Linked DNA regions of Homo sapiens: regions 2 and 3 are each linked to region 1. Evidence: fine-mapped expression QTL. A gene starts in region 1. Each other region holds a variant in brackets. All regions are shown on one strand. Distances are between the middles of the regions.

The links. PIP is the estimated chance that this variant, and not a neighbour inherited with it, causes the effect.
Region 2: its variant is fine-mapped to the expression of CIITA in whole blood (TOPMed, PIP above 0.99).
Region 3: its variant is fine-mapped to the expression of CIITA in whole blood (TOPMed, PIP above 0.99).

What each region holds. Positions count from the first base shown.
Region 1 is chr16:10,875,187-10,880,186 of GRCh38, forward strand. CIITA (class II major histocompatibility complex transactivator) reads left to right here and starts at 2,016. Exons shown (of 20, transcript NM_000246.4): 1 at 2,016-2,196. The coding sequence starts at 2,145. RefSeq lists enhancers at 1,630-1,709, 2,040-2,109, 2,150-2,229, 2,270-2,319, 3,740-3,789 and 2 more.
Region 2 is chr16:10,925,503-10,935,869 of GRCh38, forward strand. CIITA (class II major histocompatibility complex transactivator) reads left to right here. Exons shown (of 20, transcript NM_000246.4): 20 at 1-10,367. DEXI (Dexi homolog) reads right to left here. Exons shown (of 2, transcript NM_014015.4): 2 at 3,389-4,057. Among named protein-coding and RNA genes, the nearest start is that of DEXI, 12 kb to the right of the region's middle. RefSeq lists an enhancer at 5,121-5,170. The variant C/T (reference allele first, on the strand shown) is at 2,663.
Region 3 is chr16:10,911,133-10,916,132 of GRCh38, forward strand. It overlaps CIITA (class II major histocompatibility complex transactivator), which reads left to right. Exons shown (of 20, transcript NM_000246.4): 14 at 4,438-4,518. Among named protein-coding and RNA genes, the nearest start is that of DEXI, 29 kb to the right of the region's middle. RefSeq lists an enhancer at 1,276-1,325. The variant G/A (reference allele first, on the strand shown) is at 2,373.

The sequences.
Region 1 (5,000 bases):
GACCTCAAATGATCTGCCCACCTCAGCCTCCCAAAGGACTAGGATTACAGGCATGAGCCACTGTGCCTGGTCATTCTTAGAATTTCTGACATTCACCATATCCGTTTGTTAGCCCCACTAAGCAAGGCTGTTTCAAATTGACTCAGCATTTCTTATTTGTCAATTTCTACCCCACTCCTCACCCGGGGACTTCTGAAAACAGTGAAGGCTTCAAAGTAATCACCTTACAAAGAAGGGCATCATCCTCATTTCACACATGGGGAAACTGAGGACCACAGAGAGGAAGTAAAGAGGCCAAGGTCACACACCTGCTACTAAGTTCCCCGTCCAGTGCTCTTTCAGCAAAAATGCATGAGGCACACAAGTCATGTTTCCAAACCTTCATTTCAGTACCACCTTCATCATTTTTGTGTTTTCCACATAACACTTTACTATTATTTATGACAGGGTTTTTTTTAACCACTCACCTTTTTTACTTATCTTTCTTTTCTTTTTCTTTAGGAGAGGCAGGATCTCACTCTGTTGCCCAGGCTGGAGTGTATTTCATGATCATAGCTCACTGCAGCCTCCAACTCCTGGGCACACTCGATCCTCCCACTTCAGCCTCCAGAGTAGCTGGGACTATAGTTGTGCACCATCATACATGGCTAATTTTTAAAAAATCATTTGTAGAAAAATTAGCTGGATGTAGGAGAATGGCGTGAACCCAGGAGGCGGAGCTTGCAGTGAGCCAAGATAGCGCCACTGCAGTCCAGCCTGGGCGAAAGAGCGCGACTCCGTCTCAAAAAAAGAAAAAAAGAAAAGAAAAGAAAAATTAGCTGGACATAGTGGCAGGTGCCTGTAATCCCAGCTGCTCGGGAGGCTGAGGCAGGAGAATCAGTTGAACCCAGAACCCGGGAGGCGGAGGTTGCAGCGAGCCAAGATCATGCCATTGCACTCTAGCCTGGCAATAAGAGTGAAACTCCGTCTAAAAAAAAACAAAAACAAACAAAAAAAACCCCAACAATTTGTAGACATAGGGTGTCACTATGTTGCCCAGGCTAGCCTCCAACTCCCGGCTTCAAGCAATCCTCCTGCTTCGGCCTCCCAAAATGTTGGAATTACAGGCACAAGCCACCTGGCCCAGCCATCTACTTTATATTCAAATAAAACTTTACGTCCCATTATAAAGGGAAAAAATGGCAAAAACAGGAGGTAACCATTTAACAAGAAAGCAGAGTGATGTTAGATTATAGCAAGATACTGTTGACTGTAGAAGGCTCTGAGGCTAGAGAGCTGCTTTCTATAAAACAGAGTGATCATATATTAGAAGAGGTGTTAAAGACATGTTCACACCAAGCTGAGACTTCCTCCTTGATACCACCAGGAGGATGGGCAGAGACTGGAAAAGACACTAACTTTCTCCCTATGGGAGTCAGTATTATTTAGCATCACTTTGGCGGGTCACCCCAAACCATCTGACTACAAGGGTACCATATTTGGGTTAACACTCTTTTGGTATAATTTATGTTTTAGTCCAATGTCTTGGGATGAAAATGACAGGTGGGCCACTTATGATCTCCAGAGAAATTCAGGGCAATTTGGTGTGGGAGTAGGCATGGTAGAGGAGAGCAGCATCTAAGAAGTCCCCAGCAGAGGCTCTCAGCTTGTCTTGAGGCATCTGGGCGGAGGGCTATGATACTGGCCCCATCCTGCAGAAGGTGGCAGATATTGGCAGCTGGCACCAGTGCGGTTCCATTGTGATCATCATTTCTGAACGTCAGACTGTTGAAGGTTCCCCCAACAGACTTTCTGTGCAACTTTCTGTCTTCACCAAATTCAGTCCACAGTAAGGAAGTGAAATTAATTTCAGAGGTGTGGGGAGGGCTTAAGGGAGTGTGGTAAAATTAGAGGGTGTTCAGAAACAGAAATCTGACCGCTTGGGGCCACCTTGCAGGGAGAGTTTTTTTGATGATCCCTCACTTGTTTCTTTGCATGTTGGCTTAGCTTGGCGGGCTCCCAACTGGTGACTGGTTAGTGATGAGGCTAGTGATGAGGCTGTGTGCTTCTGAGCTGGGCATCCGAAGGCATCCTTGGGGAAGCTGAGGGCACGAGGAGGGGCTGCCAGACTCCGGGAGCTGCTGCCTGGCTGGGATTCCTACACAATGCGTTGCCTGGCTCCACGCCCTGCTGGGTCCTACCTGTCAGAGCCCCAAGGTAAAAAGGCCGGGAAAGCATCTTAATTTAGCGTGCAGTCTCAGCTGGTCCTGCCATTCCAGATAAACAGAGAAACCATTCTGAATTGGGGATGGGGGTGAGGATGGGAACAGGAGTCTGTGTCCTGCTGGGGCAGGCCATTGGAAGATGTGAAAGAGTTGTCTATTTCCTTCCACCGGAGGGAGACTTCAGGTCAGCCAGGTGTCTGGAGTATGAACCATGTATCAGCACCGAAAGGTTCTAGAAGTCAGACTTTCGGGCAGTGTGTCACTAACTCTCAGCATGCTGGCCTGGCTCGGCCCACAGCAAGGTCTTCTCGCCTCCCTTTGGGTAAATACTGAGGGGTGCCTCTGCAGGACGGGACCTCTGCCAGACTCCACTCCATACCCAGAGAAGCAGGGAAACCAAAATTGGAGTCAGCCTTGAGGTGTAGCTGTTGAGCCCTCAGCAGCTGGGGAGAGCTGGCGGATGCTGCCCTCCCCCCAGTTTCCTAATGGTGTTGTTTAAAAAGGGTCAGGGGACGGGGGAACAGATGGTGGGAAGAGCACAGTGCAGACACCTGGCACCGGCTCTGAAGGCAGCATGGCAGCTACACCGTTGGCTGGGAAGGGTGTGCCCCTGAAGAAGTCGTTTACATTCTCGAGTCAATTTTCCTGGAGTGTACAATGGACCTGTGGGAAAGCCTGTATGAAAGGGTAATGATGAGGGACCTAGCACAGTGTCCAATATTTTATAGGAACTGGAATTGAGCTCATAGGAGCTCAATTTTATTGGCATTGCTGTTGTTGGATGGTTAAAGGGGTGGTATCCCTTTTCTCAGACTCCCCTGAAATGTATGGTTTGCTTTGAACCCAGAGACTGATGACAGGTCTGCCGGTGTGGTTGGGTGCAGCCTTAAGTTGCTACGGGAAAGTGTTGGAGGGGGAGAAGTCAGAGGTAACCTTGCCCCCTCCCTCAATTCCAGATGAGGAAATTCAGGCCTGAAAAGGGAAAGTGACCACCTCAAAGTCTCATGCCTTGGAGGACCCAGCAGGAATCCAAGACCTCTGAAAAGGACCGGCAGGGCTCTTGCCACGGCTGGGGGTGTGGTCATGGTAACACAGGTTTTCCATCCATGGAAGGTACCTGAGGGATTTTCTCTTCCTCCCTAGGGCCAGCATCAGAGGAGTGAATAGCTCAGTTAGCTCATCTCAGGGGCCATGTGCCCTCGGAGGTGGTTTGCCACTTTCACGGTTGGACTGAGTTGGAGAGAAACAGAGACCCACCCAGGGGTGGGGACAAGCTCCCTGCAACTCAGGACTTGCAGATCACTTGCCCAAGTGGCTCCCTAGCTCCTGGCTCCTGGCCCGGGGCCTGGGACTCTCCCCGAAGTGGGGCTGGCCACTGTGAGGAACCGACTGGAGGCAGGGACCTCTTGGATGCCCCAGGCAGTTGGGATGCCACTTCTGATAAAGCACGTGGTGGCCACAGTAGGTGCTTGGTTGCTCCACAGCCTGGCCCGAGCTCAGCGCTGCAGAAAGAAAGTGAAAGGGAAAAAGAACTGCGGGGAGGCGGGGAGGTAGGATGACCAGCGGACGAGCTGCCACAGACTTGCCGCGGCCCCAGAGCTGGCGGGAGGGAGAGGCCACCAGCAGCGCGCGCGGGAGCCCGGGGAACAGCGGTAGGTGACCAAAGTCTCCTCTGTAACCCCTAAGGTCGGGCTGAGAATCGAGGCTCCGAGACTGTCAGCTACTTGCTCAAGGTCACACAGCAAGTCTGGGAGGATGGGGGGATGGAATATGCAAAATGTAGGGCCGGGAAACACCTCGTTTCCAGCATCCCCGCAACGACTCTGCGCGGGAACCAGGAGCCGGGAACCCGGAGCTTGGCTTGCTGTGCCCAGAGCTCCGGGGCCGTGGGCGGGTGGCAGGAAAGCCTGGCGGCAGCTTCTGCAGAGAAGCCGGAGCGCAGACTGGGAGCGCGGAGCAGACACACTCCCCCGGCCACCCTTGGCCGACTCCGCGCGCCCGGGATCCTGCAGAGGTGCGCGCCCTTCTTGTACGCCAGACTTTGGACCAGGGCCGCCGTTCCCTGAGCTTCACTTTCCCTGTTGGGTCATATTCCATCTCTAACTCTGGAATCTTGGGTATTGGGCTCTCCAGGCGGGGGGCCCTGCTCAGGGAGGCAGTAGGGAGCCAAACCTTTAACCAGAGGATGGGATAAGTCCTCAACTCTCGTTGAACATCTTGGCGAAGGTGTGTGTTGTTGGGAGGGGTGGGGGAGGGATCCCCCCGGACTGAACCGATCTCTTGATCTCTCACTTCTCTACCTCGCTTTGGGGCCCTGAGTCACACCCTCTAAGGAGAGAGGCTAAAGCGCCCCGGAAAGCCAGCGTGCGAATGCCGGGGTGGGAGTGGGAGATTGGATCTCCCTGGGGTCCAGGAAAGCCGGAATCGGAGCCACCATGCTTAGCTTAGTCTGGAACTCTTAAAAGCCGCGGTCCTCCTGAGTCCCACAGCCCCTCTCCACCCTAGGTGGCACAGGAGAGGTGGCAAAAGCCTAGAAGTTCAAGGCATGGCTCCCTCCCCAGCCGCAGCCTGGAGTGTCTAACTTTGGCAGGAAGTCTTCCGTTTCTGCTCCCCACTCCAGAGAAAAAATAAATAAATACTTCTCCGGAGTGAGATTAAGGAAACAGGTACTTCTTCCTCTTGGAGAAAGAGGAGCCAAAGGAACTTGACTCCAACAAATGATCACCTTGCAAACCCCCGGCTCCCTTAGGGGATGACCTGGTCTCCAACAATCTCAGAGCGTTTGGAGGCAGGGTC
Region 2 (10,367 bases), 53 kb after region 1:
TCTCACTATGTTGCCCAGGCAGGTCTTGAACTCCTGGCCTCAAGTGATTCTCCTGCCTCAGCCTCCCAAAGTGCTGGGATTACAGGTGTGAACCACCACACCCAGCCCACTTCTGCCATATTCTGTTGGCCAGTGTGACAAGGATTGCTACTGTCCTACCCACCCTCCTTTCACCACATGTGCACATGCACGTGTGTGCACGTACACACACATACACACACACGCGTGCACACACCAGAGCCCACCTTGGCTCAAGTCCTCTTTTCTGAGAGGACTTTTCTTTGTGGCTTCCTAAAATTCAGTGGAAAATTAATTGTTTGGGGATGAGAAAGGTTGAAGCACCAAAAGCTTACCAAGGGGAATGTTTGCCTCTGCCTCTGACACACAGCTCTGTCCTGGGAGTGAGCTGGTTTTTAGCGGAGACGGAGTCCCACCTTGGCTGCAGGGAGTCCGAAAGGGACTTGGAAGCTCCGCTTTCTACCCAGCGAGCTGCCGGCACGACTGTTGCTTTTCACTCGGGCATAGTCTGCTCAGAAGCCCCAATTCAAGACATCTTAGCTTACTCCTGGTGGCAGTGGGAGCTGCCTGTTCAGCTCCAGCTCACCAGCCCCAGTGCCCACAGGATCAGTCTGATTCCCAAGCTCTGCTCCTCTCCCCAGCAAGTGAGAGCTGGGTGTCAAGAGGGTCTGAGGAATCCAGACCCGGCTGCGTGGTTGATGATCTTTGCAGACAGGCAAGCACCTCCTGCCTCGAACTGGCTGCAAAGGGTATCAGGTGCTGCCATCCAGGTTCAGCTTGTAAATAGCTCAGGTGTCACCCTGCAAGGGATCCCTGCACTTGCAGACTCTACAGAGGCCATGGGCCTCCTGTGTGTGCGCCTACAGGAGTGAGCACTAAGGTGTGCTCTGATCATCCACTGTGCCATGTGCCAGGTTTTTGGTCTGACCCACTGCTTTTGGTCTGTGTGATGATGAAATGAGGTCAGAGCCTGCAGTTATTAACACTAACGATTTGTTAATGATAGCTACTGTTTATTATTTTATTTAATTTTTTTGAGACAGAGTTTTCACTCTTATTGCCCACGCTGGAGTGCAGTGGCATGATCTCGGCTCACTGCAACCTCTGCCTCCTGGGTTCAAGCAATTCTCCCACCTCAGCCTCCCAAGTAGCTGGGATTACAGGCATGCACCACCACGCCTGGCTAATTTTTGTATTTTTAGTAGAGATGGAGTTTCACCATGTTGGCCAGGCTGGTAATCTGCCTGCCTTGGCCTCCCAAAGTGCTGGGATTACAGGGGTGAGCCACCGCACCCGGCCACTACTGTTTATTTAATGAGCAGATACATGCAAAGCCCTTATCACAGTGCAAGGGAAATTCAAAGCGCTCAGAAAGTATTAGCTCAATAAGTGATGACTGTGTGCCAGACACTGTGCTAAACTCCTACTCAAGAGGGATAAGAGTCTAGGGGCAAGTGGCAGAGACTCTAGAACGAGATTGCCTGGGCTCAACGCCCACCTCACCACTTACTTATGCAAGCTAGTTCTCTGTGCCTCAGTCTCCTCATTTGTAAAATGGGCATAACCACAGCACCTTCTTTATAGGATTATGTGAAGGTGTGGTGAGCTAATACGTTAAGAATTGGAGCTCAATAACATGTTGGCTGTCATTATTACATATATCTGTGTTTCATTCTTGCCTCTGGCTGGAATGTTCTTCCCAGCTCTCCATATGGCTGATTTCTCATCCTTCGGGACTTGCCCCATTCTCCAACCCCATCACTAGTTTTATCTTTTTCACTTATTTATGCAGTCTGCTCTTGTCCTAGGACATGAGCTCCAGGAGGGCGGGAAACATCTCGCTTTGTACACTGCTGTGCCCTCTGTACCCAGCAAGGCGCCTGTGTATAATAGGTGCTCAATAACATAAAATGAACAAATAATCCTCACCTAACGGTTTCATTCATTCTGCAAATACATACTGACAGCACAGTCATGAATAAGATGTTCCTGCCCTGGTGAGTCTTATATTTTAGCAAATTAAAAAAACTCTTTGGACAGGGCTGCCAGGTGAGGTTGGCCAGTCTGTACACTGCACAAAGGCACCTGGGACAAGGGGGAACATGGGGGCTGCAAACCAGTCTGGGTTCTGCTTGCCAAACTGGGAGTCCTGGTGTGGAGCCTTTTAACCCAGAGGGGCATCTTTTCGTAGTTAACGCACAGTCATCGTAAGATGTGGATAAATTACTGTCTCCGTGTCACAGATCTAAGTGATACTTATAGTCACACTCCTATAAAGGAATGGACTTCTGACTTCTTTGGAGGACCTCTCTGCAGGGACAGGCACAGTGTGCCGGAAGTGCCCCTGAACCCCATTTGTCAGGTGGTAAAGCGCTGCTCGGAGGAATCAGGGCATGATAGTGCAATTCCATGTCCAGTGGATTGTAAGTCCACGCACCTTCCAAATGGTCACTCTTCCTCGCAGGCCTCTCTCTGCATACAAATGTCTCCCTCCTGACGCTCACCTTTTTCCCTGGGGCTCTCAAATGTCTTCTTTTCAGATTTCGTAGCTTTTCTTTCTTTAGCATCACTTGAGGGCAAGTGGTGCTCCAACTGTCTCCCCCCAGAGTTCTGCCGCCTGTACTCTCCCACACCTCAGTCTCCT[C/T]GCCTGTAGAAAGGGGTCAATCGTTTGAACCCTGCTTCACTTGGTGTGTATGTGAAGGTGCTTTGAAATCAAGTGCTCTGCAAACTGGAGAGAATTACTGCTTGTATTCCGTGAAACTACAAGCTCCCAATTCCACTCATTTAATCCCTCTCTTGCTCTGTTGCCCAGGCTGGAATGCAGTGGCATGATCTCAACTCACTGCAACCTCTGCCTCCCTGGTTTCAAGCAATTCTCCTGCCTCAGCCTCCCGAGTAGCTGGGACTATAAGTGTGCGCCACTATGCCTGGCTAATTTTTTTGTATTTTTAGTAGAGATGGGGTTTCACCGTGGTGGCCAGGCTGGTCTCGAACTCCTAACCTCAAGTGATCTGCCCGCCTCGGCCTTCCAAAGTGCTGGGATTACAGGCATGAGCCACCATGCCAAGCCCTTCCCCCCTATCTTTAATGAAGGTCTACCATGTGCCTGACACAGGGGATACCCACCCCCACTTCTATGGGATTCAGGCCTGGTTTCCAGCTTGGCCTTCAGGCTTTTCCCACCACACCCCAAATGCTGTCCCTGGCTTGTGGAGTGGGGCAGGGGGCCAGCCTGGGACTTTCACGCCAGCCCGACTGGGGCAGACTCTCTCAACCCCACTGGATCTTCTGCTGTTTGTCAGCCACAAGGTTCTGCCTAGAACTCCTTTCCCGAATCTCAAAGTTAAAAAAAAAGGCAGGGCCCCAGGGGTTGGAGTTGCATACATTTTTTTTTAATCCAAAGAAGTAAGCCTCCTAAGTATTGCTTAGACAGGTTTATCAGAATTAAGTAGGCACAACACTCATACTTTCAGAAAAGCATTTCCAGCCAGGGGAGTAACGTGGCACTCACCAGCATGATGTCTGTTTTGCCAACTTGCTGAAGAACGAGTAACCTGAAATGAAGGAGCGAGAATCCCACCCTCAGCCCCCCAACAGCTTCCTCAGCTTCTTTTTCTTCTGAGTCACCCCTGAAACAGTCGCTGCATCTAAGACCAGCCTCGGGCTAAACCCAGCTGGCCTGAAGGCTCAACTCACATCAAACGGAGCTGGGAGTCGCTTTTGCGTGTGTCCGCAGTTTGAAGTGTCCTCTCCGAAGGTGAAGTGGGGGAAGCAGGTGCGCTCCGGGATGAAGTGCAGGGAGGCAAACTCTGGCTGGGTTCCTGTAAACATCCATCGCAGCTGCAAATAATCAGAAGCCAAGGCCAGGCCATCGATTTGACACTGCAGGCAGATGAGGTCTTGGGATGCCTCTTGCGTTCCCCCTTCTGTGGGAGCAGGTGCCTTCCCAACCTCAGCACTCAGTCCCAATCTCTCTTCCACTCTCCTGGGTTCAAACAGGAACCTCTCTGTTGGCACGAAGCTTTTGAGGGGAGCAGGTCTAACAAGAAGGAAAAAGGGGGGTTATTAGCACGGAAGCCCCACCCTGCCACCAGGTTGGCTGGGGACAGGGACCAATCCACCAGGCTCGGGAGGCTTGGGGTGGGGCAGGGAAGTCTTCCTCCATCCCTCAAATTTAGGGAACCACTGGGAGCCCCAGACTCAGGCTGAAAATGTCTTTCTGCAAATATAAAACTCTTTTTAATGAATTTGCCTAATTTCTCAGAGACCCTGGGCTGGAGAACCAGTGCAATGTCACACGGGAGAGGAAGGACTGTCCTGTTTATTGGGAGGGAGGAGGGGGATGCTGGTGCAGCCTGCTCAGGAGTCACCCAGGGTCTGAGGGCTGACTTGCAGCTCTGGGCCAGCTGAGCCAGCGCTGGGTAGTGGGCAGGGCTTGGCAACACCTTCCACCTTGCCCGGAAAAATGCTTTGCAACCTACAGGAAGGCAATAGCCACAGCCAAGTTACTCAGCAGCCCCACTTGGCTCTTTCTCCCAGGATGCAGCATCATCTCCATGGCCTGGCCCCCTGGCACGTCCCCGTTTCCCACTGCCTTCTCTGTGTGCCTAGCCGGGTGCCAGTGTCTCTGTAGCACCTCGTGTTCCCATGCCCAACCCCTCTGCAGCCCCCTCAAGCCCTGCTCTGATTCCAAGCCTCATCTCCCAGCTCACTATCCTTTCCGCAAACTTCACTGAACATCTCGCAGAACTTGTATGTTAAACATGTGACATGTATTGTTGTTTGACAGGGTGCTATTGACATTTGGGGTAGGACAATTCTTGGAGGTGGGGTGGCTGTTCTGGGCACTGAGCATTTAGCAGCATCTCTGGCTCCAGGCCACTAAATGCCAGTAGCACCCCTGGCCACTGGAACAACTAAAAATGCCCTCCTACCCTATTTCCAAGGTCGACCTAAGGGGGCGGAACTGTTTCCATTGAGACCCATGCATCGTATAGGATAAGAAACTGAGGTTCTTATCATTTAATAGGATAAGAAATTGAGGTTCAGAGAAGCCAAGTAACCTGCCTAAAGATGCACAGCTATGAGAGGCAAAGCTGGCACTGGCTTGGTAATAACGATGGAAACGGTCTGAATGAGAGCAGGTACCATTTCCTGAGCTCTTAGCAGACGCTGAGGACCCTGCTAAGTGCCATGAGACCTTAGCAGAGGCTGTGGGTGCCCCGCCCCATTCCCTCCACTCACTCTTCCTTGCAGGTCGACCTGCCCTTCTTTGCTGAGGCCTTTCTCTGCCTCCAGAGCCTGCTTGGTCCTCAGGCTGTAAGTGCAGGCAGAGCTAATGTCTCTCCATAGCTGCCCTCCACCAGCCTGCTCCTGAGACACCTGCTGGCCAGCAGCCTGAAGCAGAATCCTTTACTCAGATTCAGCCGCACAGATGCTCACTGCAGAGATCTCCAAGGCCTGTGGTCATCCTTGAGCCCATCTCAGATTTGTGTGGATAGGGTGTTAGAGAACATGGAATCAGCTGGATAGAGTGGTTCATGCTTGTAATCCCAGCACTTTGGGAGGCTGGGGTGGGAGGATCACTTGAGGCCAGGAGTTTGAGACCAGCCTGGGCAACACAGTGAGACTGTCTCTATAAAAAATTTAAAAATTAGCCAGGCATAGTGTAGTCTCAGCTACTTGGAAGGCTGAGGCAGGAGGATTGCGTGAGCCCAGCAGTTCAAGGCTGCAGTGAACTATGACTGTGCCCCTGCACCCAGCCTGGGTGACAGAGACCCTGTCTCAAAAAAAAGAGAAGATGGAATCACTCGGTGAGGACCTCACTCCTCTCCCAGTCCTGTGACCACAAACCGCATCCCCGACAGTCCCAGCCAGGCGCTAGTCTGGCTGTAGCTGCCCTCTTGTGTGCAGATCTCCAGTCTGAATGGGCTACACGTGGAATTTACTAACACTCCGGTTTTCATTGTGTTTATCTGTAGGGTTACCTTCTATTTATAGCAAGTGATGCCAAGTTTCCATTTCTGGTAGTAATATAGTTTTTCTTTTCCAAGTCGCTCACACCTGTAATCCCAACACTTTGGGAGGCTAAGGTGGGTGGATCAGTTGAGATCAGGAGTTTGAGACCAGCCTGGCCAACATGGCGAAATGAGGTCAAGACTAGCCTGGCCAACATGGCGAAACCGCGTCTCTACTAAAAACAAACAAACAAAAATACAAAATTCGCTGGGCATGGTGGCAGGTGCCTGAGGTCCCAGCTACTCGGGAGGCTGAGGCAGAAGAATCGCTTGAGCTAGGGAGGCAGAGGTTGCAGTGAGCCGAGATCACGCCACTGCACTATAGCCTAGGTGACAGAGTGAGACTCTGTCTCAAAAAAACACAAAAGTTTCTCTTTTCAAAACATTTTACTTTAAAAGGAGCCAATTTAAAGAAAACTGTTAATAGTTCAGGTAACAGGCAGATACAGGAAAAGCTGCTGACAGTGTTGTATGAGGTTTGAGGATTTTGATCCAAGCTGGTCCCACTCAGTCCATAGCAGAGAATGAAAGGGCCCAGAGAGGGTGGTGACCTCTGCCTGAAGTCACACAGTGAGTCGAGGACAGGGAGGTGACCCCAGGTTTCTATGTGTAGGGCGGGAGGATGTTCTGGGACACAGTTCAATTCTCATTTGTCACACACTTTGGCTATTAGAGATCAACCCCTTCGCTCCTGTGTCTTGCAATGGCAGCCTTGGCAAACGCTAAATGAAAATCGTGACAACACTTGTGTTATGAAGCATTTACTTTGTGTTCACCTTGTACTACTCGAACTCATGTCTTAACTCACTTATCCCTCAAAAACAACTCTAGGAGGTAGGGCCAAGTAGGACCATCATCCCTGCATTTCACATGGAGCTCAGAGAGGTTAAGCAAGCCGTGCAAGGCCACACAGCTCATAAATGGCAGAGCCAGGATTTGAACCCCCGTGGCCTGACCCCAAAGCCGAAACCACTCGGCACTGCAGGTTCGTCCCTTTTCTCTGAGATGGGGGTATCCAATCTTTTGGCTTCCCTGGGCCACAGTGGAAGAACTGTCTGGGGCCACATATAAAATATACTAATGATAGCTCATGAGCTAAAAAATAAAACAAAATCACACACACACACACAAAAAAACACAAACCAAAAAAAAAATTCTTTTTTTTTTTTTTTTTTTGAGACAGGGTCTTGCTTTGTCACCCAGGCTGGAGGGCAGTGGCATGATCTTGGCTCACTGCAGTTCCAGGTTCAAGCAATTCTCATGCCTCAGCCTCCTGAGTAGCTGGGACTACAGGCGCATGTCACCATGCCTGGCTAATTGATGTATTTTTTAGTAGAGATGGGGTTTCACCATGTTGGCCAGGCTAAAATCTCATAACGTTTTAAGAAAGTTTATGAATCTGTGTTGGGCCACAGTCAAAGCCGTCCTGAGCTGTATGCAGCCTACAGGCCGCACCACGGATTGAACAAGTTTCTTCTAAGGCATCAAGAGCCCCAGGCTGAAAAGCACCCCAGAGCTGGAGCTTATAGAACCCAGGGCAGCAGGTTCTCCAACCTTCTGACATCATCAGAGCACAGCAGACAAGTTATCAGCCACTAGATTTTTTTCCCCCTTTCTGAAACTGTAACCTTTCATTCCAGCCATTCCCCAGAGCTGGACAGAGGACGTGGCTGGCTGGCTGGTTTCTGTAGTCAGAATGACAGTTGGGTGCTAGATCCCCTTCGTGAAGCAATGTCTTAGCTCAGTAACTCTGCAGAGAAGCTGCCTGGTTCAGGATGTGGCTTAAGTAAGAAGATGGCCCTGGCGTTTTACGCGCACTGGTGGGTGAGGCTCTGAAAGTGGTAGAAGGGAATTCTTTCCTAGAGTTCAGCTGCCCGCTGTCCTGCTCCTCAGGGCAAATGCTGTGAGATCTGCATTTAGCCTGTCTGTGCTGATTGTGGTTCTGCCCCTTCCTGGCTGTGTGACCTCAGACAAGTCACCCACCCTCTCTGGGCCAGTTTCCTCATCTGGAAAAGGGGACAGTGCCCACCACATTGGGCTGTTTGTGTCCATGGAGTGCCTGACAATACCCAGCACACACGAGACATCAGTACAGGGTGGTTCCTTCCCTCCTTAGCCCCACCTGTTCCCAGGTAGAAACCAATACCGGCAGGGAACCTTCTCAAGGCTAGGGGCCTTCTGAAAGCAGCAGCACTTTTCCTCCTTCAAAGACCTTGCCTTCTAGAAACCCATTGCTCATTCCTTTCTCCATGTACCAAAAAATCAATTAAAGTGGCTAAAGACAGACGTCACCCTCCCCTACTCACGCAGCCATTCTGATCCTCCACGCTGGTGACAGGCTATGTGGCAGGAGGGTCTCTACCTTATCTCAGAATGAAGGCATGGCTGGGGTCTGGCTGTCTCCTGGTGGCCGGAAGGAGACAGACGGCAAAGGAGAAGCTGCCTGTCTCTGCACAGGTCCATGTCCCTGAGGAAAGCCAACGTCACAGAGAAATGATGACCACTTTCTCAAACCTGGCTTCGGATTTGCACGTTGGCTGCCAAAGCTGATCAGCAGCGGGCTTTGTGAAGATGCCTGGTCTACCACGTGCCTCCAGCTGGTCACGCCCAAGACTCCCTGAGCCCTCTGGAAGGGCAGCACTTGCCCAGTGCCTCCCTCCAGGTCCTGCCACATCCAAGAACCACCTGGACTATTATTTACTTAGTATTTTAAACCAATGTACTTTTTAAACTCCAATTTTTTAATAAGATCATTTATGTCACCATATAACACCCAAAGCAGTAGAATTTGTCATACACAGAAGGCAATGCTAAAAATACAATGAAAATGGAACCAGGAAGTCTAGCTTGATACCCTTGGCCTGTATAACTGAGCCTTGTGCCAGTTAAAAGGGCAAAGCAGTAGGTGCTCAGGGGGTGTCGGGGCCCTGAGAGCTGATCTGATCCGCTGCTGCGTATTCACTACCGCCCTGGGACGCCTCCAGCAGACCACCTCACTGGGGGAAACATCAGGACAGCGTGGCCAGGAGCCCAATGCTGCCACCTCATAGATGGGTATCTGAGATGAGTCATCGAACTTCTGCAAGCCTCAGTTTCCTCCCTGGTCTAATGGAACCCTCCTTGGCGGCTTCACAGGGTGATGCTTGGGGCAGGTGATGGAGATGTGGGAGAGGCAGTTATTTTTAACCACCCAGCCAAGCCCCTTGCCAGGAGGGACTCCCAGAAATGAAGCCTTACCCTTGAGGGAGTTCCCCGCCACTCCAAGCTTGGGGCCTGGGATGGCAGCTGTGAGGGCACCAGCACCATCTGGGGACTCGCTGGGTACCAATTATCACCGCCCTTGGGCTACTTCAAAGGCTGCCCACACAGACACACCCTCCTTGGTAACCAGTCCTCAGGAGGAAGGGCACCCAAGGAAAGGGGGAAGGCTTCCTGGGCTAGAGCCCCTTCAGGGTCTGACACGCCATTGACACTGACCACGTCATTCATTAAGCAAGCACCAACTATACATCATTCACTATCCCAATCTAATTTGCACAAGCCCTTAGGCAGGTGCTACTATTATCCCTGTTTTACAGAGAAGGAAACCGAGGCTTAGGAGATGAAGTCTGAGGTGTTGGTGGAGCTGGGATTTAAACCAAAATATGTCCAACTGCAAAGCATGTAAGTAACAATTTTAGAGGGTATACGGAGGTGACCCTAAGTAACAAGGAATCACATATAGTGAGCAAGCAATTTGCTTTTCAGTTTTTGGTCAATCCTTATGATTATTTAGAGGAGAAAGTTCAGTTTGGTGCTGGTATATCTTATGTTTATCACCCGACAGTTGTTAATCTCTTTTTAACAAAGAATACAGGCCAAGGCCCTGTGACTTTAGCTGGCTTTGGTATTTGGCCAAAAGTTAATGACTTTGGCAGTTAGTGTTTTTATCCATGCCAAGCGATGATGATTTTCTCTTTAGTGACAGACATTTTTTAAAAAATAAATTCACATAAAAAAGTAGTTTTACAGATGAAGCACTAAAACTAGTGCATTTCATCTTAAACTGCAAATTATAAAGGGAATAATAGTAACTTGACAGTGGAGAGACCTGGCAGACACCACCTTCACCAACTGATCAAAGTTAACATCGCCAGAAAGGGGACAGATGGCATGTGCCTCTCGATAAGATGCACTGAAGACACACACTCACTTCTGCAATATTCCTGCCAAGAATGCCTCATCTGAATCTAATCTCGAGTATAACCATCAGACAAACCCAAATTGAGAGACAGTTTACAAAACACCAGCCTTGTACTCTGCTTAATATGTCAATGTCACAAGAGAGAAAGA
Region 3 (5,000 bases), 36 kb after region 1:
TACATGGGCCCCAAGAAAGCACAATAATTATTATATTTAGATCTGTCAGAATATAGCTTTTCTTTCTTTCTTTCCTTTCTTCTCTCTTTCTTTTTCTTTCTTTCTTCTTTCTTTCTTTCTCTCTTTCTTTCCTCTTTCTTTCCTTTCCCTTCCTTTTCTTTCCTTCCCTCCCTCCCTCCTTCCTTCCTTCCCTCCCTCCCTTCTTCCCCCTTTTCTTCTTTTTCTTTCTCTCTGTTTCTTTCTTTCTTTCTCTCTCTCTCTCCCTTCCTTCCTCCCTCCCTATCTCTCTCTTTCTTTCTTTCTTTCCTTCTTTTCTTTCTTTCCTTTCTCTCCTTTCTCTTTCTTTCTTTCCATTCTCTTTCTTTCTCTTTCCTTCCCTCCCTTCCTTCTCTTCCTTCCTTCTTTTTCCTTTCCTTTTCTTTCCTTTTCTTTTCTTTCTTGAGGCAGAGTCTTACTCTGTCCCTCAGGCTGGAGTTCAGTGGCACAATCACAGCTCACCACAGCCTCAACCTCCCTAGGCTCAAGTGATCCTCCCACCTCAGCCTCCCTAGTAGCTGGGACTACAGGCATGCCCCACCTGACTAATTTTTGTATTTTTTGTAGAGACAGGATTTCACCATGTTGCCCAGTCTGGTCTCGAGCTCCTGGGCTCAAGCAATCCTCCCACCTCAGCCTCCCAAAGTGCTAGGATTACAGGTGCGAGCTCCCGCACCTGGCCAGAACAGGCTTTTAAATTTGCAGCTCACCTTCCATCTCAATTATCTCAGGCCACCCTCCTCTACAGGCATTGTCATCATCTCCCCATTGTACAAATGGCAATGCTGAGAACAAGAGACTTTAAATTGTTTATCCAAAGTCATAAAGGTCAGGTCAGCCTGGCCCTAAGCTCCTTCCACAGAAAAAGCTAAATGAATGTTTGTTCCTTGGTAGGGGTCTAGATCATCTAATGATTAGGAAGGAGTTGTTATGCCTGTGGTATATTCGGTGCTGTTTTTTTTTGGAGATGGGGTCTTGCTCTGTCACCCAGGCTAGAATGCAGTGGTATGATCTTGGCTCACTGCAATCTCCACCTCTCGGTTCAAGCAATTTTCCTGCCTCAGCCTCCCGAGTAGCTGGGATTACAGGTGTACACCACTACACCTGGCTAATTTTTGTATTTTTAGTAGAGACGGGCTTTAACCATGTTGGCCAGGCTGGTCTTGAACTCCTGGCCTCAGATGTTCCTCCCACCTCAGCCTCCCAAAGTGCTGGGATTACAGGTGTAAGCCACCATGCCCAGCTTATAATTCAGTGCATTTTATATATAATCTCATTAATCTCAAGAGCTACTGTGGAAGACAGACAGTCATCATCTTCCCCATTTTACAGATGAGGAGACGGAGGCCTGGTGAGGTTAAGTGACTTGCCCGTGGTCCCCCAGCTGGTCACCCACAAGCTATCAGCTCTCCCTGATCACTGCTCCCCTGTGCCCCAGAAAAAAGCCAGTGTCTCTTGTTTTGAACAGAGACAAGGTGCTAAATTTGTCCAGAGGTAAAAATGATGCTGAAAAGGGGAAATGTCTGAAAACAATAACTGAGGGCCCTTTCTGGCCTTAAATTATTTTCAGCTGAAAAAGCCCCTAGTTCAAGATCGGAACTGCGCTCTGGGGAACAGCGGCCATGGGGTGGAACAGCCTAGAGCCGGGTGATCAGCCACCTGGAGACCGGAAGCCCCCGAGGAGGTTCTGAGGAAGGAAGGAAGGAAGGAAAAGACTATTTCTGGCATTTTCTCAGGCTTCTACTGTGCCCAGGCACCCTGTAGACCTCATCTGTCTGTCAAATCAGGGTTCTTAGCCACTCACAACCCTACAGGGACTTCGTTTGTACACAGAGTCCTTCCCCAGTTCAGTCCCCACTCACCTGTTCACCCTTATCTCCTACACTCGCTGGGTGCTCTCTCCATTCCAGCCACAGGGCCTCCTTGCTGGCTTTCAACCTCCTAGGCATGCTTCTGCCTCCAGGCCTTTGCACCGGCTGTGCCCTCTGCCTGGAATACTTCTCCCCAGATATCTGCATGGCTCATGCCTTCACCTCCTCTGGTCTTTACTCAGTGAGGCCTTTTCTTTTCTTTCTTTCCCTGTTTCTTTCTTTCTTTCTTTCCCTCCTTTCTTTCTTTCTTTCCCTTTCTTTCTTTCTTTTTCCTTTTTTCTTTTTCTTTTTTTGAGGTGGAGTCTCGCTCTGTCACCCAGGCTGGAGTGCAGTGGCACAATCTCGACTCACTGCAACCTCCTCCTCCCAAGTCCAAGTGATTCTCTTGCCTCAGCCTCCCGAGTAGCTGGGACTACAGGCACATGTCACCACATCTGGCTAATTTTTTGTATTTTTAGTAGAGAC[G/A]GGGTTTCACCGTGTTAGCCAGGATGGTCTCAATCTTCTGACCTCGTGATCCCCCCACCTCGGCCTCCCAAAGTGCTGGGATTACAGGCGTGAGCCACCACACCCGGCCTCAGTGAGGTCTTTTCTGACCCTCACAGTTAAAAATAAAACTCTGGCCAGGCGCAGTGGCTTATGCCTGTAATCCCAGCACTTTGGGAGGCCGAGGCAGGTGGATCACAAGGCCAGGAGTTTGAGACCAGCCTGGCCAACATAGTGAAACCCCATCTCTACTAAATATACAAAACAAATTAGCTGGGCATGGTGGCAGGTGCCTGTAGTCACAGCTACTTGGGAGGCTGAGGCAGGAGAATCATTTGAAACCGGGAGGCGGAGGTTGCGGTGAGCTGAGATCACGCCACTGCAGTCCAGCTTGGATGACAGAGTGAGACCCCATCTCAAAAATAAATAAATAAATAAATAAATAGAACTCCATTCCCCTCATGGTTAAAAAAAAAACTCCATCCCCCTCACCACTGTATATTTCCATATGATTCATTGTCTCAGACATCAGCTTGCTTTCCGATTTCTTTGATTATCTGTCTATCTTCCCCCCTGGAATGTCAGCACCCAGAAGGCAGGGATTTTCGTCTGTTTGGCCCACAACTTTCCTCCCTGGGCCTGGCACATAGTAGGCAAGCGGTCAATATTTAACAACGAATGCCTTAATCCAAGAACCCCCATAAGATTGGGGTGAAATATTTGAGGAGATCAAGACTTAAGGGTGAAGGGATTTGCCAAGGCCTTTAGCAGGGAGCCAAATGCCAGATCCTGGAGTCAAACTCTGATCCTGTGGCCTTTTGCTGAGGCCAGTGTTCTCAGACTTCAGGATTTCAGAGGCCGAGAACATTTCGGAATGAATTCGAGTGACCGTGCGCGGTTACTGTTTTTTAATGTTTATCAAGGATGCTCATTCAAACAAACAAATAACAACAAAATACCCACTGCTGGCACCATAATTTTACCAAAGAATGATCATTCTAATATTGAAAAAGTTCAAAGGACATAATTGCAGAATAAAAGACAGCTCTTTATATGGAATGCATTTAACCATATTTTTAAACTAAACGGCCCTTCGTTGTCCTTATTTTTCTCATCCCCTTGAAGTCTGCTCTAAATGTTGATCCAGGCTGTGTGACCCTGTGTGAGCTATTTGATCGCCTAGTGCCTCAGTTTCCCTATATGTAAAATGGAGATAAGAGCCCATAGCTCAGAGTCTTGAGGAGTAAATGAGATCTAGGCCGAGGGAAGGGCCTAGCATGCCCCTGGCTTATAATAAATGCTCAACAAATGGTTCCTTTTGTTATTAAAATGCAAAGGCATATTAGTCAACCACCTGGTTTACCACTGGCAGTGGTCGTCAGCTGGCATTTCAGGACCCCTTCCCCAGGCTGCGGCGGGAGAAGGGTATCTGTGGATGTTGGGAAGAGTAAGAACTGGCTCCCTACTTAGAGACAAAAGCTGGGGAGCCCCAAGATGGGAGCCCAACTTACCTCTTTTTCTTTTCTTTTTTTGTTTTTTTTCTTTTTTGAGACAGGGTCTCGCTCTTACCCAGGCTGGAGTGCAGTGGTGTGATCATGGCTCACTGCATCCTCCACCTCCTGGGCTCAAGCGATGCTTCCACCTCAGCCTCCTAAGAAGCTGAGACCACAGGACACACCACCACACTTGGCTAATTATTGTGTTTTTTGTAGAGACTGAGTCTCACTATGTTGCCCAAGCTGGTCTTGAACTCCTGGGCTCAAGCAGTCCTCTTACCTTGGCCTCCCAAAATGCTGGAATTACAGACATGAGCCACTGTTCCCAGCCTCAACTGGCCTCTTATGGGGGGCTATGAAATCTACCCCAAGCAGAAAAGATTGGGGTCCTACGTGGAAGGGTTGCAGGGACCTAAGAGGCTGGGGTGGAAGGGAAGAGGAGGGGCCTCAGACAGGACCTGACTTCTGTGCCTTGTCTCTGCCCCACCCTGGGGCTGAATGAGGGGCTGTGACTGTGACTGGAGGTCTTACCCTTGCTCTTTGCCTCCTAGGCTGGGCCCTGTCTCAGGCCCCCAGGCTTTCCCCAAACTGGTGCGGATCCTCACGGCCTTTTCCTCCCTGCAGCATCTGGAGTGAGTATAGACTCTGGGACCCCTTCCTCTCAACATCTGGGTGCAGTGCTGTGATCATAGCTCACTGCAGCCTCGAATTCCTGGCCTCAAGTAGTCCTCCTGCCTCAGCCTCCTGAGTAGCTGGGACCACAGGTGCATGCTACAGTGCCCAGCAACCTCTGGGTTTTGACAACCCCAAATCCTGCCCCCAAGGCACCTGCAGAAAGAAAAGCCCTCACTTTGTCCCTTTTTTTCTCTCTTCCGCCTACTGCATCCTCAATGTGGCTGGCACATGAGTGATGAGATGACGCCACATCAGATGGGAATCCCCAGTGACAAAAAAAGTTGTAGATCCTTTCGTGACCTTTGAAACTCCTTTCCTCACAACCTCATTTGCTGCTCTCAGCAATTCAGCTGGGGAGGGATTGGGGAGCATAGTCCTACTTTACAGTGGAGGTTAAGGAAGTTGCCAAGCCTCAGGGGCTTAGTTCCTAAGAAGCTAA